Linked DNA regions of Homo sapiens: region 2 is linked to region 1. The links come from fine-mapping of genetic effects on gene expression. Tissue or cell type: whole blood. Region 1 holds a variant in brackets; the other region holds the start of a gene. All regions are shown on one strand. Distances are from middle to middle.

Evidence for each region. PIP is the estimated chance that this variant, and not a neighbour inherited with it, causes the effect.
Region 2: it holds the start of ACSS1, and the variant in region 1 is fine-mapped to the expression of ACSS1 in whole blood (TOPMed, PIP 0.98).

Annotation. Positions count from the first base shown.
Region 1 is chr20:25,957,342-25,965,445 of GRCh38, reverse strand. LINC01733 (long intergenic non-protein coding RNA 1733) reads right to left here. Exons shown (of 4, transcript NR_110003.1): 3 at 2,250-2,384; 4 at 1-443. Among named protein-coding and RNA genes, the nearest start is that of LINC01733, 5.6 kb to the right of the region's middle. The variant G/A (reference allele first, on the strand shown) is at 4,672.
Region 2 is chr20:25,054,797-25,062,900 of GRCh38, reverse strand. ACSS1 (acyl-CoA synthetase short chain family member 1) reads left to right here and starts at 4,762. Exons shown (of 14, transcript NM_032501.4): 1 at 4,762-5,132. The coding sequence starts at 4,799. RefSeq lists enhancers at 4,281-4,886, 5,537-5,666 and silencers at 4,507-5,036, 5,167-5,436.

The sequences.
Region 1 (8,104 bases):
AATGTGTCAGGTATGGTGACACACGCTTGTGGTCCCAGCTACTCAGGAAGCTGAGGTGGGAGGGTTACTTGAGCCCTGGAGGTTGGTGCTGCATTGAGCCATCATTGCACCACTGCACTCCAGCCTGAGTGACAGAGCTAAAACCTGTCTCAAAAAGATAAATAAGACCTGGTGCAATGGCTCATGCCAGTAATCTAAGCACTTTGGGAGGGCAAGGTGGGTGGATCAAGAGGTCAGCAGATTAAGACCATCCTGGCTAACACGGTGAAACCCCGTCTCTACTAAAAATACAAAAAATTAGCTGGGTATGGTGGTGGGTGCCTGTAATTCCAGCTATTCAGGAGGCTGAGGCAGCAGAATCGCTTGAACCCGGGAGGCAGAGGTTGCAGTAAGCCAAGATCATGCTGTTGCACTCCAGCTTGGGCAACAGAGTGAGACTCCATCTCGAAAAATAAATTTAAAAATAATAATTAACAAATAAATAATTGACTTAATTTTTAGAACAGTTGTAGGTGTACAGAAAAATAGAGCAGAAGGCATATTGAGCTCTAATATCTGCCTCACAACACAGTACACACACTTCCTCTATTATCATCTTGTTAGTGCGGTACATTTGTTATGCTTGATGAGCCAACATTGATATTATTAAGTTCATGGCTTATATTAAGATTCACTCTTTGTGTTCTACCATTTATGGGCTTTGACAGATGCTTAAGCAATATATCCACCATTATAGGGTCACACAGAAAAGTTTCACTGCCCTAAAAATCTTCTGTGTTCCACCTATTCATCCTTCCCTCTGCTGAAGCCTCTGGCAACCACTGAACTTTATATAATGCCATCTGCTTAGTTTTGTCTTTTTTAGTATTCCATATAATTGGAACTCTACACTATGTGGCTTTTTGCATTGGCTTCTTTCACTTAGAAATACATGTTTAAGATTCCTCCATGTCTTGTCATGCCTTGGTAGTACATTTATTTTTATTCCTGAAGAATATTCCATTGTATGAATGTTTCACAATTAGTTTATCCATTTCCTTATTGTACGATATCCTGGTTACTTCCAATCTTTGTTGGTTACGTATAAGCTGCTATAAACATTCATATACAGAATTTGAGTGGATATAAGTTTTCAAGTCATTTGAGCATATACCAAGGAATACAATTGCCAGATCATATGGTAAGCGTATGTTTAGTTTTGAAGGAATTTGCAAAACTGCCTTCCACAGTGGCTTTACAATTTTGCATTCCCAGCAGCAATCAATGAGAGTTCCTGTTGTTCCATATCCTCATCAGCATTTGGTAGTCTCAGTGTTTGGATGTGAGCCAGTCTAATAGATGTGTAATGGTATCTCATCATTGTTTTAATTTGAATTCCCTAGTGACATATGGTGTTGAGCATCTTTTTAGATGCTTATTTTTGCTATCTATATAGCAAAGGGCAGATACAGATGGTGAACTGCAGGGAAAGAGCTTGCTATGATGATAGGAAGCTGCAGGCAGAGATGATCTCACAGTTAACTGGGCATCAACTGTGCCTTCTCCTGTCACATAAAATGTGATCTACCTGAGTTTTGACTGGAAACACAGAATATCTGATTGTTCATAAATATTTCTTACTGAAGCTTGAGGTTTATGTATGTTATGATCAAAAGGTGATATCACCCCAATATATAAGCAGGTTGGAGTACAACAGGGAATGATTGTCAGAGATGTTGAGAGTCTACATTGAATGGATGGTGTCACTGGCTGCCCATATATTTCTCATTATGGACTTTAACTTTTCATTTGCCACATGAAAGGCCACTGAGATAGGCTAAATCACATTTTTCTCTTGGGGATCTCTGTTACTGAGAAATTTTTGCATTCTGGGCTACACTGGGTTCATAATCTGACTATATATATATATATCGTGTGTATGTTTGTTCCTTCCCTAAAATGCTCAGTTCAGCTGCAGTTCTAGAGGCAAATACTACTAGGTTTCCATTTTAGAGAGTTGAAGATCTGAGGTCTGGAGAAGTTAGTGTGTAGAAAGTTATATTTAACAAGTGGCAAGACCATGTGGCTAGGTCAGATAAGCTGCCTTCAGATTTTACTCTTGAACTTCTACTGGATAATGTCTTTTTTTATAGAAAAGAAAAGAGTGAACTTAGATTTTTTTTTCAAAATCATGGACTGTAAGAGTTCTTTCAAGATATGATGAAAAGCAATAATTGTCTCATTTTACATTGCCTATAATTATTGCTCACCAGAAATTGATTATCCATGCAGCAACCTTTTACATTCCTCTCTGCTTTACTATGCATGAGGGGGCTTCACTGTAAATAAGAGGTCCAAGATTCAGAAATATCTTTAACTTGCAATGCTTGGTCACATGTATCCATCTGAAAAATATTTTGCTCATTAGCCATATGGACTCATATGGCAAACTACAGCCAGAGACACAAAATGTGGAAAGAAGAAAGGGCTATCAGAAGTCCCGTGTCTCCTTACATTTTGTATTTCTATTCATATGCATCTAGAATCATAAGGAATTTGAGCAAATGGGAAATGCAAAGTCCTAATCAAAGCATACCCACATTTCAGTTATCTGCATTATTGCACATTTAAATTTATAATGCATACATAGGATACAATTCAATAGGTATAAAAATGTTAAGTAACCTTTTCTCTCATGCACCCCAGTCACTCAGTAGCTCACTTTAGAGTCAACATTTTAATTTTGTTGTGCATACTTTCATAAATTTTCTCTCTCTCTCTCTCTCTCTCTCTCTCTCTCTCTACATATATATATATATACATTCTTTTTTGAGGTGGAGTCTCGGTCTGTCACCCAGGCTGGAGTGCAATGGTGAGATCTCATCTCACTGCAACATCTGCCTCCTATGTTCAAGCAATTCAACTACCTGAGTAGCTAAGATTACAGTGTGTGCCACCACACCCGGCTAATTTTTTGTGTGTGTTTTTAGTGGAGACGGGGTTTCACCGTGTTGGACAGGCTGATCTCAAACTCCTGACCTCGTGATCCACCCACCTCAGCCTCCCAAAGTTTTGGGATTACCAGCATGAACTACCACACCTGGCCATTTTTTTCTCTTTAAAATAAATTTTATTGTGTATATTTAAGGTTCACATATGATGTTATAGAATACATATAGATAGTAAAAATTCATTACTATAGTGAAGCAAATTACCATATCTATCACAGATACGCACATTTTTTGGTGTGGCAAGGGAAGGTAAAATCTTATTTAGCATGAATCCCATATACAGTACAATTTTATTACCTATAGTCCTCATGTTGTATATAGATGTATAGGATCGTTCATCCTACATATCTGCTACTGTGTATCTCTGACCCACATGTCTTTATTTCCTCCCTTCCTCTCTACCTGATAACTACTCTGTTGTTCTTTTTTTTTTTTTTTTTTTAGGCAGAGTCTCACTCTGTTACCTCCCAAAAGTGCTGAGATTATAGGCGTGAGCCACCGCACTTGGCTGCTTTCACCATTTCAGACTGAACTTGGAGAAGAACCTGAGGAAAAACATGACTTTAAAATTTTGATGAATGGAGAAATCTCTTTCCATTCACCTTCCTTTCCTCTATTTCATTCTTATTGTGAAATATGCAAACAAACATATGGATCCATCAGTTATTAAATAAACATCTGTGTGATACCTATCCAGGTGAAGAAATAGAGCACTATCACCACCAAGAAGTCCTCTGTATGCCCCTAAATGATCCTAAAGTCTTCCATCCCTTATTAGTAACAGATATAACAGATAACCACATTACCTGTGGATATCTGCATTTCTCTCCTAGGTTCTCTTTTTATTATGTATTTTTTTCTTTCTTTTCTTTTTCTTTTTTTTTCTTTTTTAGAGATGGAGACTTGCTCTGTCACCCAGGCTGGAGTGTAGTGGCATGATCTTGACTCATTGCAACCTCCAACTCCTGGATTCAAGTGATTCTCATGCCTCAACCTCCCTAATAGCTGGGATTACAGGCATGGGCTATCTGCCATCATGCCTGGCTAATTTTTGTATTTTTAGTAGAGACGGGGTTTTACATGTTGGTCAGGCTGGTCTCGAACTCCTGACCTCAGTGCCTGGCCTTATTATGCATTTTTTAGAAGCCTAAAGTCAAGTCTGGTTTTGCCTGATTTTTCTCTTACATAATTGGAGTAAAGTCTGTATCCTGCTGCCTCTGGCTCCTTTTACCCAATATTAAGTATTTAATATTCACACTTAGCATTGTTTCTGCATTCTATTAAAACAGTACAGCCAGTCACGATGGCTCATGTCTATAATCCCAGCACTTTGGGAGGCTGAGGCAGGCAGATCACTTGAGTTCAGGAGTTCCAGACCACCCTAGCCAACATGGTGAAACCCCATCTCTACTAAAACTACAAAAAGTAGGCCATGCAGTGGCTAATGCCTGTCATCTCAGCACTTTGAGAGGCCGAGGCAGGCAGATCGTGAGGTCAGGAGATCGAGACCATCCTGGTGAACACGGTGAAACCAAATCTCTACTAAAAATACAAAAAATTAGCTGGGCGTGGTGGCATGTGCCTGTAGTCCCAGCTACTCGGGAGGCTGAGGCTGAAGAATCACTCTGGGAGGTGGAGGTTGCAGTGAGCCGAGTTTGCACCACTGCACTCCAGCCTGGTC[G/A]ACAGAACTAGACTCTGTTAAAAAAAAAAAAAAAAAAAAAGGCCAGGCATGGTGGTGGGTGCCTGTAATCCCAATTACTCGGGAGGCTGAGGCAGGAGAATCAGTTGAACTTGGGAGGTGGTGGAGGTTGCAGTGAGCCAAGATTGCACCCTGTACTCCAACCTGGACAACAGAGTGAGACTCAGTCTCAAAAAAAAAAAAAAAAAAAGGCCGGGCGTGGTGGCTCCCACCTGTAATCCCAGCACTTTGGGAGGTGGAGACAGGTGGATTACCTCAGGTAGGGAGTTTGAGACCAGCCTTACCAACAAGGTGAAACCCTGTCTCTACCAATAATACAAAAATTTGCTGGGAGTGGCAGCACCCATCAGTAAGACAAGCTACTCGGGAGGCTGAGACAGGAGAATTACTTGAACCTGGGAGGCAGAGATTGCAGTGAGCCGAGATCGCACCCTGCACTCCAACCTGGGGGCCTGAGCAAGACCCCATCTCAAAAATAAAAATAAAAATAAAAATACAGTACACCAGTGTGTATCCCTTCATTGTTGGTAGACATGTGGGTTGTGTTCATTTTTGTCAGTTACAAATGATGCTGTTGTGAACATTTGTGTATTTATATTTGGTTACCATTGGTGTGTATAGTGTGTATAGTGAACAGTATAAAACAAGAGGTGAAACCATAGGTTACAGCGTAAACATATCTTCCATTTTATTAGCTATTATTGGTTTCATCCCAATGTTAACACACCAACTGACAGTCTTACAATGTCTGATAATTCCCAAATCTTCGCATTCTTCTTGATACTTAATTTTGTCAAAATTTTAATTTGAGTTTTTGGTGGGTATGTGGCAATGATTGTGATATTAATTTACTGGGCCTTTTCTTCTCTGTAACTAGCCCTGTCAAGATATATGTGTAGTGTGGGAGGGGTAGGAGCCCCTAGAGGTAGCATGGGCTCTGGAATCCTTAATCATTCTATGTGAAAAAGTTGGTGGGGCAGTGATTTTTTTTTTTTTTTTTTTTTTTTTTGAGACAGAGTTTTGCTCTTGTTGCCCAGGCTGCAGTGCAATGGCGCAATCGCGGCTCATTGCAACCTCCACCTCCCAGGTTCAAGTGATTCTCCTGCCTCAGCCTCCCAAGTAGCTGGGATTAAAGGTATGTGCCACCACAACAAGCTACTTTTTTGTATTTAGTAGAGATGGGGTTTCACCATGTTTGTCAGGTTGGTCTTGAACTCCTGACGTCAAGTGATCCACCCGCCTCAGCCTCCCAAAGTGCTCAGATTACAGGCATGCACCACTGCCCCTGGCCTGTTTTCATTTTATTAATTGGCTAATTCATTCAGACACATAATTATCAAGTCAAATCTCACTCTTTCCTTAGCATTTATCTTCAGTTTAGCTTAGAAAATCTATTCCTATTTTAAAATATATACAATTATTTGAGTGTGGTGGCACATGCCTATAATCCCAGCTACTTGGGAGGCTGAGGCAGGAGTATCACTTGAACCTGGGAAACTGAGGTTGCAGTCAGTCAAAATCGCCCCACTACACTCCAGCCTGGATGACAGAGTGAGACTCCATCTCAAAAAAACAAAACAAAACACAACGAGAAGGTTTTCTCCAGATCATTTTTACATTTAATTATTCAGTCTGTTTTGACTATACCTTAATGTAAAGAATTCAGTAAATATAACTTCAATCCTACACACTATTAGTCAATGTACGTAACACGATTTATTGAATAAACCAGTCCATTCCCAACATCATTCTACTAAAAATACAAAAAACATTAGCCAGGCAGGTGGTGGGCACCTGTAGTCCCAGCTACTCGGTATGCTGAGGCAGGAGAATGGTGTGAACCCAGGAGGTGGATCTTGCAGTGAGCCTAGATCACACCACTGCACTCCAGCCTGGGCAACAGAGCAAGACTCCATCTCAAAAAAAAAAAAAAGGAATTTATTTCCCAACGTAAATTAATAGAGCCATTAAGGAAAATAACATGGAGATTCATCAGAAATTAAAAATAGAATTACTGTATGTTCCAGCAATCCCACCTATGTGTGTATAGCTAAAGGAATTGAAATCAGCATACTGAAGAGATAACTGCACTACCATATTCACTGCAGCATTATCCATAATAGCTAAGATATGAAAGCAACCTTGGAGGCCAGCATAGGATGAAAGGATAAAGAAAATGTGATATATATATATATATATATATATATATATATATATATATACACACACATACACACATACATACACACACACACATAAAGGAATACTATGCACTCTTCATTTTATTTTATTTTATTTTGAGACATAGTTTCGCTCTTGTTGCCCAGGGTGGAGTGCAATGGAGTGATCATGGCTTACTGCAACCTCCACCTCCCGGGTTCAAGCGATTCTCCTACCTCATCCTCCCTAGCAGCTGGGATTACAGGCATGCACCACGTAGCCTGGCTAATTTTCTACTTTTAGTAGAGACGGGGTTTCTCCATGTTGGTCAGGCTGGTCTAGAACTCCCGACCTCAGGTGATCCACCTGCCTCAGCCTCCCAAAGTGCTAGGATTACAGGCATGAGCCACCATGCCCGATCTTACTATTTACTCTTTTTTTTTTCCTTTGAGATGGAGTTTCCGTCTTTTTGCCCAGGCTGCAGTGCAATGGTGTGATCTCAGCTCACTGCAACCTCCGCCTCCTGGGTTCAAACAATTCTCCTGTCTCAGCCTCCCAAGTAGATGGGATTACAGGTGCCCACCACCACGCCCAACTAATTTTTGTATTTTTAGTAAAGAGGGGGTTTCACAATGTTGCTCAGGCTTGTCTCGAACTTCTGAGCTTGAGTGATCCACCAGTCTCAGCCTCCGAAAGTGCTGGAATTACAGGCATGAGCCACAGCACCCAGCCAAAAACACAGATTAGTGTATTAATAGTCTGAAGTACTGTAAAATACTGCTGAGAGTACAGATCACTAATATCATCATCACAGAGCACAAAACAAGTTCTGGTATTATTAAGAAAATCATAGCTCTGACTAAAACATACATGGAAAACACATTCTATTAGAAATTAAATTATACTAATACTATTGACAATCACTTTTATAGCTGTCACTGTAAACTCAAAGACAAGAAATAACTTCATCACCAGAAAACATAAAACAAGTACTTAGCCTTACTCCTGAGAAGGCTGTAGTTGCCTTTTACTGAACGACACCTCAGTTCTTGGGATAAAGTTTGAAACAGCAACTGGAAGGACAGCTTTAACTTTAAAATGGTTTTATTTTTAGAGTTGTCATGTTATAAAAGCTATTCTCACATAGCTAAGCTGTTGGAAAGAGACCAGGTTTTGTGAAGGTTTTTCATCAGGTATTTCATGTTGTCCTCACTGCAACCTCAAACAATGGCAAATGCTTCGTAAGCCATTGTGA
Region 2 (8,104 bases), 900 kb after region 1:
AAGCCAATTCCAGACTCCCAGCATCTGGGTCCTGTACTTGATCTGAGCTCTGCCATGCTCTTCTAAATTCTGTGTTTTGGTTTTACTGTGCATTTCAGCTATTTGAACAGTGTCTGTCTCTCCCCAATTTGAACTGTGACCTGCTTGCTTGCAGGGACCAAAACTGGACCGTCCTTGTCCAACTGAGAGCCCTCAGCTCTTGGTGGTGCACATGGGAGAAGCTCACAGGTTTCTTCTGAGTGTCATTGGAAAGAGGTGTGTGTGTGTGGGGTCACAGAGACAAATGAAGAGAACAGGAAGAGGGAGAGATGGAGGAGAGAAGAGGAAGGGAGGGTTTTACCAGCTCTTTGGAGACCACTGAGTGCACAGGGAGTGGTTGGGGATCCGTTATCAGCCAGGACTGTTTCTTGAGCATCTGAGCACTGCGACTCTGGAGTAATGGGCATGGCAGGAGCTATGAAGGCAAATGGCGAAGGCCGTGTTGGTGGGCTCTGTCCCTAAAGCTGTTAAATTAAGATGCTCTGGACGCTATGGCTCTGCTACCTACTAGCTGGTGGCCTCGGGTGAGCTTCTGTCCTCCTGCTTATTTTCACACATGTACAGCAAGGGCAAGAGCATTCACTGCTGCAGGTTGTAGGGTCAGTAGTCACAGCTGTGTTGGCATTTCTGGCCTAAACATTAGTACCGAGACAGAAGCGAATCCCGGATTCCCAAGAACCCTGCCCTCTAAGCACTTCGTGTGTCTGCAGCCCCTGCCTGACAGCATCCAGCGTTCCAAGTGAGCTCTCCTGAAGTTGAGGCCAGCGGCTTCTTAGGGAGAAGATGTGACCAGCACTGCCCAGATAGCCTGCTGCCCTGTCCAAACCTCTGAGGGTCCTTCGGGATGCAGGGCCAAGAGTGGGTGCTCCTTGTGCTTGTTCAATCTTGTGCTTGTTCTGCAAGAGTTGATGACTGGCTGCCAGGAGGGAGGCAGTGGGGACGACCTTGGCCTGGGCTGTGACACTCAGAAGGAAGGTCTCAAGGCCACCTCTAGGTAACTCGGGCAGCAAGAAGTGCAGTTCTGCACCACCTGGTTGGTTCTGACATGTTTGGTTCTGAAATGATCACTTCTTCTTATCCAACCAGAAGGAACGAGGTAGCATTTATTTTAAAACAGAGTTAGTTCTACCTACTTTTCTCATTGCAACTGTAGAAGACCTTAGAAACGAAGGTAGTAGGAAGAAGGAGCCATTGCCGTGCACTCTCCATGGGGTGGCTGTTGGTGCCAGGCCCAGTCACAAGCAGCATAGCTGGTCTCTTCTCTCACAGGGCTCCCTCCTGGTAGGAGGACTAGGAAGATAAACACAGAGCTAATAAGTAACAGCCATGGAGAAAAGTCAAGTCAGGGGTTGAGACTAGGGAATGAGGGCGGAGGTATAACTTTATGTAGGTGACAGGGAAGAAAGGGCTCTTGGATGAAGGGATGTTTGAAGACACCTGAAGGAGGTGAGGGGGAGTCTCTGTGGACAACTGGGTGGAGCATTCCAGGCAGAAGGGACATCGTGTGGCAGTCCTGAGGTGGGAGCCTGCTGGGTGATGGGAAGGACAGGAGGAGGCTGATGTGCTGGAGCCCCAATGAGTGAGAGCAGAGGAAGAGGGTACACTGGATCAGGGAGGGCAACGCTTCTCTAACGTGAATGTGCATGCAGCTCCCCTGGGGCTTAAGATGCAGATTCTGAGGCAGCAGGTCTGAGATGGAGCCTGGCATTCTGCATTTCTACAAAGTATCCAAGTGATGCTGCTGGCCCATGGACCACACGTTAAGTAGTGAGGCTATGGCCTGTGGGCCAGGGAATGATGTGGTCTTTGTTTTGAGGAGACTGGGGAGCCTTTGGATTGTTCCAAGCTCCAGAGCAAGTTCCTCTGACTCTTGTTTTAAAGGAATTGCACTGGCTGCTGGTTAGGCTGTCAGGGGCAAGGGTGAAAGCAATTTGAAGCCTACTGAATAATCCTAAAAGAGATAGGTATGGTTAGGATGGTAGCAGGAGGGGATGGTGATGGGGGAAGAGGTTAGTGCTGCAGGTGTTCTGAAGGTGAGTCACAGGATTTGCTGACAGGCTGCATGTGGAGTGTGAGGGGGAGGAATCTAGGATGACAAGGGTATGAGCCCAAACAACAGGAAAATGCCATTTCCATTCACTGACATGGAAGATCCGTGTTGTGGGGAAGAATCCCAGGACTTGGTATGTTTCAGATGTGAATGAGACATTTGAATACAGGACTGAGATGTGGAGGAAAGGTCCAGGCGGGAGGTGTCAATATGAAAGTGAGAGGCTAGAGAGCTGGCTGCTGTTTCCTAGGGGGCAGGGGAGAAAGGGGGATTTGAGGGCTGAGCTCCTGGGCACTTCAACACTTGGAAGGCAGAGAGAAGAAAGGCACCCAGTACAGGGCACTGAGAGGCAATAGTCAGTGAGTGAAAGAACCATGCATTTTTCAGCCTCAGTTGTTGTATCAGTTACCACTGCTGAGTTACAAACCATCCCAAAATTTAGTGGCTTAAATTTATTCCTTCTACAATTCTGTAAGTGGACTGGGAGGTTCCTTTGCATCCCAGGTGTTATCTGGGGTGACTCATGAGGCTGCCTTGGCTGGGACAGGAGCCTCCACATTGGCGTCATTCTTGTCTGGGAGTTGGTCCTGGCTGTGGATGGGACAGCTTCATCCTCGCCCTGGGTCCCTTCCTCTGGAAGGCCAGCCCCGCTTCCTCACAGCTCGCAGCTGGGTTCCATGGGAGGATAAGCTGGGGCTACGGGGTCTCTCAGGACCTCCACATGGAACTGTCACAGCATCCCTCCCACCAGGCTGTACTGGCCAAAGCAATCCAGCCAGCCAGGGTCCTCCTCTGGACAGAGCAGCACACCATCATGTGCAGGCGGTGCAGGCGTGGGAAGGAAGAGTTGGTGGCCGTCTTTGGGACCCCCTGCCACAGTTAGGAGCTTTCTCAGTTTACAATTTTACTACTCACTGACCTCTGCCTCTCAGTGCCCTGTACTGGGTGTCTTTAATATTCTATTCAAATGAACTTAGGCCAACGAGCTCCCCACTGGGGGCACTGGGTGTTAGTCTTGCTCTTCCCTTAGCCAGCTGCATGCTCTTTAGTAAGTCCTTTTATTTATTTGGGCTCAGTTTCCTCATTTTTTCCACCTGGAGTTTGACAGTTGGTGGGAATGGACAGCACTAGATAAGTTTCAAATTAAGTAGACTAGTCGGGTGCCGTGGCACACGCTTGTAGTTCCAGATACTCAGGAGGCCGAGTCAGGAGGATCGCTTGAGCTCAGGAGTTCCAGGCTGTAGTGAGCTGTGATGGGAACCATTGCACTCCAGCCTGGGCTACAGGCCCTATCTCTAAAAAAGTATCATAAATAAATAAAGGAGAAAATGCAGGTCAAGCGCTAGCACTGTGCAGGGCATGTGTTATGCTAGTAGATGTCACTGATTCTCCAGCTCTAGGTACACTCCTGTCTTCTCTGGCAGACAGCAGCATTCCCCAGCAGGGGCTGGTGGCTAGCCCACGCAGAGGCTCCTCCAATGGCAGGCTCCTCCCCTCTGCAAGCCCTACAGCTCAAGGGAAAGAAACTTTCCCATCACAGAGAACTCAATAAACCAGTTTTCCAAAATCTCTCTTCCCTGTGTTTACCCGTTTGTTATGAATTTACTTCTTGGGTGTCAGAATATTTAAGAACTCGGTGGAGACCAGTTTTATACGTTTCCTTCTGTCCTTCCTGGCTCCACAGCTGCAAAAACATCATCCCCACTACTGAGCTTACTATGGGGCCACGCAAGGGTAGACGCTTGACAGACATTGTCCAATGTATTCCTTACTGCAGCTGCCCACCCCCGCCGTCCCCGCCCCCCAGGGAGACATTACTTCCGTCTTCCCCAAAAGGAAAACGAGGCACCGAGAAGTTAAGGAACTTGCTCAAGGTCACAGAGTTTGAACTCAGGCTACAGATGCTGCAGCAACTGGAGAAAGTCCTCATCGCCCCATATCACCCACCACCGACCCCCAGCAGGACGTGACCCCCGCCAGGACGGAGGCCGGCAGCTGGGGGGCTGGAGCATGGGACCCAGAACACGGACTCAGGCTTGCGCAGCCTCCTGGCTTCTAGGCGGGAGCCTAGAAAGGCGCCAGCCCCTTTCGCGTGCTGCTGAGACTCCAGGGGTGGGGTTCACTCTCAGGGGCGCACAAAGGCATGAAAACCTTGGCTTCAGCCTCTGAGATGCGGAACTGACCGACCTATTGTCTTGGGACCCACCAGTGCGCTTGGGTGCACCAGCCCCCTTAACGTTGGTGCCGGCTCCCTCCCGGCTCCTCCCCATCCCAGAGGGTCCCCTCGCCCCAGGCCCTGAGCCTGCGTCCTGGGGTCCTGGGCCGCACGTGCCTCTGGCAGCTCGAAGAAGCTGTCGGGGCTTGCAGGAGAGCGTGCAAACTGAAACCAAAACAGGCCGACTCGAGGAACATCCGGGTGGGACCGCAGACTCACCGGAGCGCAGCGCCTGGGCCAGGGCCTGGGACCCTGCTCCGCCCCGCGCTCCCCTGCACCCCTTCCCCACGCTGCTCCCCTCTTCCTAAGCGGCCCCCCCTCTCCCGGGCAGCAGAAGAAGGGGTGGGACCCGGGCGGGCTCCGGGAGGGGGCCCTGGAGGAATGGATGGTGGCGGAAGGGCGGAGCAGGGGCGGGGCCCGCGGAGACTCCACGGGGCGCCCCGGGCGTGAGGCACCCACTCTGGGAGCACAGAGAGCTCAGGTAGCCTGCCTAGATGGCGGCGCGCACCCTGGGCCGCGGCGTCGGGAGGCTGCTGGGCAGCCTGCGAGGGCTCTCGGGGCAGCCCGCGCGGCCGCCGTGCGGGGTGAGCGCGCCGCGCAGGGCGGCCTCGGGACCCTCGGGCAGCGCTCCCGCAGTTGCAGCAGCAGCAGCACAGCCAGGCTCGTATCCCGCGCTGAGTGCACAGGCAGCCCGGGAGCCGGCCGCCTTCTGGGGGCCTCTGGCGCGGGACACTCTCGTGTGGGACACCCCCTACCACACCGTCTGGGACTGCGACTTCAGCACTGGCAAGATCGGCTGGTTCCTGGGAGGCCAGTTAAATGTCTCTGGTGAGTGGGCTTCGGGAGACCCAGGACGCCCCCAACTCTTGGGTCCCGAGGGGACTCGGAGCCTCTCGCCAGCGGCAGCCGTCCCCGGGCAGCGCGGATCGCAGCCCTGCAGGGGCCCCTCCTCCGGTATTCCGTCCGCCCCGCCCGCTCTAAGCAGTGGCTCCACGTCACCCCGTCCCTCATCCCATCGGGCCCCAGATCCACGTGCCCAGCTCGGGCCGGCGCCCGCGGGGACCCGGCGGCCGCTTGGGACGCCCCGCTGCTGGCCTTGCTCGGCGCGGCTCCTCGCTCGGCGGACTCCAGAGTTGCGTTACCGGGTGCATAGCGCCGCTGAGCAAGAGCCGGCGGGGAGCCGCGGGCTACACCCGAGCGCCCCGGAGTCGGGACTTTCCCGTTCCCATACCGGGGTGGAGGGAAAAACAAAGCGGTGGCGGTTGTCACTGCGGGCTGCGGTGCCCGGGGATCAGCCTGGGGACAAGCCCTGCCCACGTAAACAAACAGAGCTGTGGCGGGCGACCTGGGGAGGAGGAAACTCGGCGTGGCAGCTGGAACCAGTTATTTCTTCGCTGCGGGCCTGGGGCCTGGGGCCTGTGGACGGGAAGGAAGTAACGGCGGCCTCCCCGTTCTCGTTCTCGGCCTCAGAGAACTGCACCCCAGCGACCTGGGGCCTGCTTTGGACCCGCGGGGTCTGACGTCGGCCCCAAACAGTTGACTGGTGGTCAGTTGTTTGGAACTTGCTGAGCAGAGGCCCTGCTGCTCTGCTAAGATTTGGGGCTGGGGGTCGTACACAGCACCCTCGCCCCCACCTAAGGCGCTGACTGGGCACCGAGGGGGAGGCCCTGAACTGCAGGCAGGGCTGGCCACGCAGGGTGGGTGCCAAGTGCGAGGTGGGCTCCGGATGCAGGGTGGGCCTGGGTGTGGGGCCTGCGGGGAGGGGCTGGCAGACACGGTGTTGATCAGAGGGATGCAGACCAGAAGGGTGGTCATAACCAGCTTGCTGGATTTGGGAGTGTTTAAGAAAGGACCTGCGGGTCTTTATGGCAGGGTCACCAGGGCCCCATTTTCTCCAACTCCTCCCTCAGTTGTCCTTGTTGTTCTGCCCCCCCAGCCCTCAGTCTCCTCATTGTGAGGATGGGGGCAGTCATGCTCAGAGGTTAGGCTGAGTGCTGCAAGGTGTGCAGCAGACCCAGCGCTTACTGGTGACCCATAAGCAGTAGCGATTTTAGATAACTTCAGAAATAGTCATACAATTATAGATAGTGTCTTGCAGTTATTTTTCAAAGAAATTGGAAGGAACTTTGGACCTCCCCCACTCCCCGAAATTGTATATTACTTTGCTGGTTTAATTAAAATGAGTCACTTACTAGATAAGTGTTTTCTTTAACATTGAGTCAGCAGCAAGTGCCCTTGAACTAGTGGGAAAAAAACCAAACCCTTTGGTTTGCAGAGTTGGGGCAATGTGCCCTTGAAGGAGACTAGAGCAGCTTGCCCAAGGACAGAGGTGGAAAGTGACCTGCTCTGGACTTGTGAGGCCAAGGTCATGGGGAACATTCACAGTTGGCCTGTGCACACTTGCAGCCCCACTCAGATAAGACAGTGGGGCGGACCTCCTGGGGCCAACAGCAAGGACCTTCTGAACCTCGCTCGGTCAGGATCAGGGTGTGGTCAGCAAGCATTCTTCTGTCTCCTTTTCCTTCACTTATTTCTTCTGATAATATGGCCTTTATGGCTACGTTAGCCAGAAATTGAGCTTCAGAAAACTAACTTGAAAAACAGCTTTTCAGCAGCTTTCTCCCCTGGGATGTGCGTGCCCTCCTGTTCATGGGTCAGCAATATCTCTTTCCTTTGCCGGTGTCTGCAAACCATAGAGAAGACAGTATGAAAAAGGGCCAGGCCAGGCCATGACTCTTCTGGGAGCATCTAGAAAGTCGTGGGATGGATGAGAACACTTTGGTCTGATCTGTCAGCTGTGTGTGATAAAGTCAGATGGCTTGTTCCAAAGGAATATCACTCTTGAAGAAAGCTTCACCTCACCCCCTCAAGAATACCAGTGGTTCTCAACGCATGGTCTTCAGACCTGCAGCATCAGCATTACCTGAGAACTTTTGAGAAATACAAATTCTGGAGCCCATCCTGGACATCTGGAATCAGAAACCCTGGGATGGGACCTGACACCTGTGTTTATAACGAGCCCTTCAGATGCTCCAGAGGACACTCGGGCTTGAGAACCACTGGCCTGTACGCCTCAAACCAGGGCAGATGAAGGCACTTCTAAAACAGAATTGGGATTAGTGTCCTGGCCTTGGCCCTATTAAACAAACAGCAAGCAAATGATGGGCTGTGGATGGCGCAACACAGTTTCGTGGCTCCAGGTGTCTTTAGAATCATGACTCGGGTTGATTTCTTGCTTTCCCTGTACTGTACTTTGCATGTTTCCTCATCTGTAAAACAAGGGCCGTATGTAACTGAATTCTGTCCTAGTTACTATTGATGTACATCAAACCACCCCTAAGTTTAGTGACACAAGATAACAACAATTTTATATTCCTCGCAGAGTCTGTGAGTCAGGACTTTGGACAGGGCCCGATGGGGATGACTCATGTCAAAGGGCAAAATTAGGACAAATTTAGTTTAAAGACCTTACTTCACTTTATTCGTGATTATAGAATTGGGAAACACCCCATTCCATAAAACAGAAGGAATGTTTGATGAGCTGAACAGAGGAGGATGGTTTTATAGACAGAAGGGGCTGAAGGATGCAGACATGGAGAACAAAAAGTGGACTGGTTATTTCAAAGCTACTTTTGTTGTAAAGGTGAAAGTGGAAGGAGCTCCCTTATCATGCCAGCTTGTTTGGAGATTTAGCTATCTTTCACTCTCCTTGTTTCTTAGAAGGTCGGATAAACAACTTAGTTTCCATTTGGTGACACCGCACTTTAGCAAGAGTGACTCCATTTTTGTGTGATCTATTG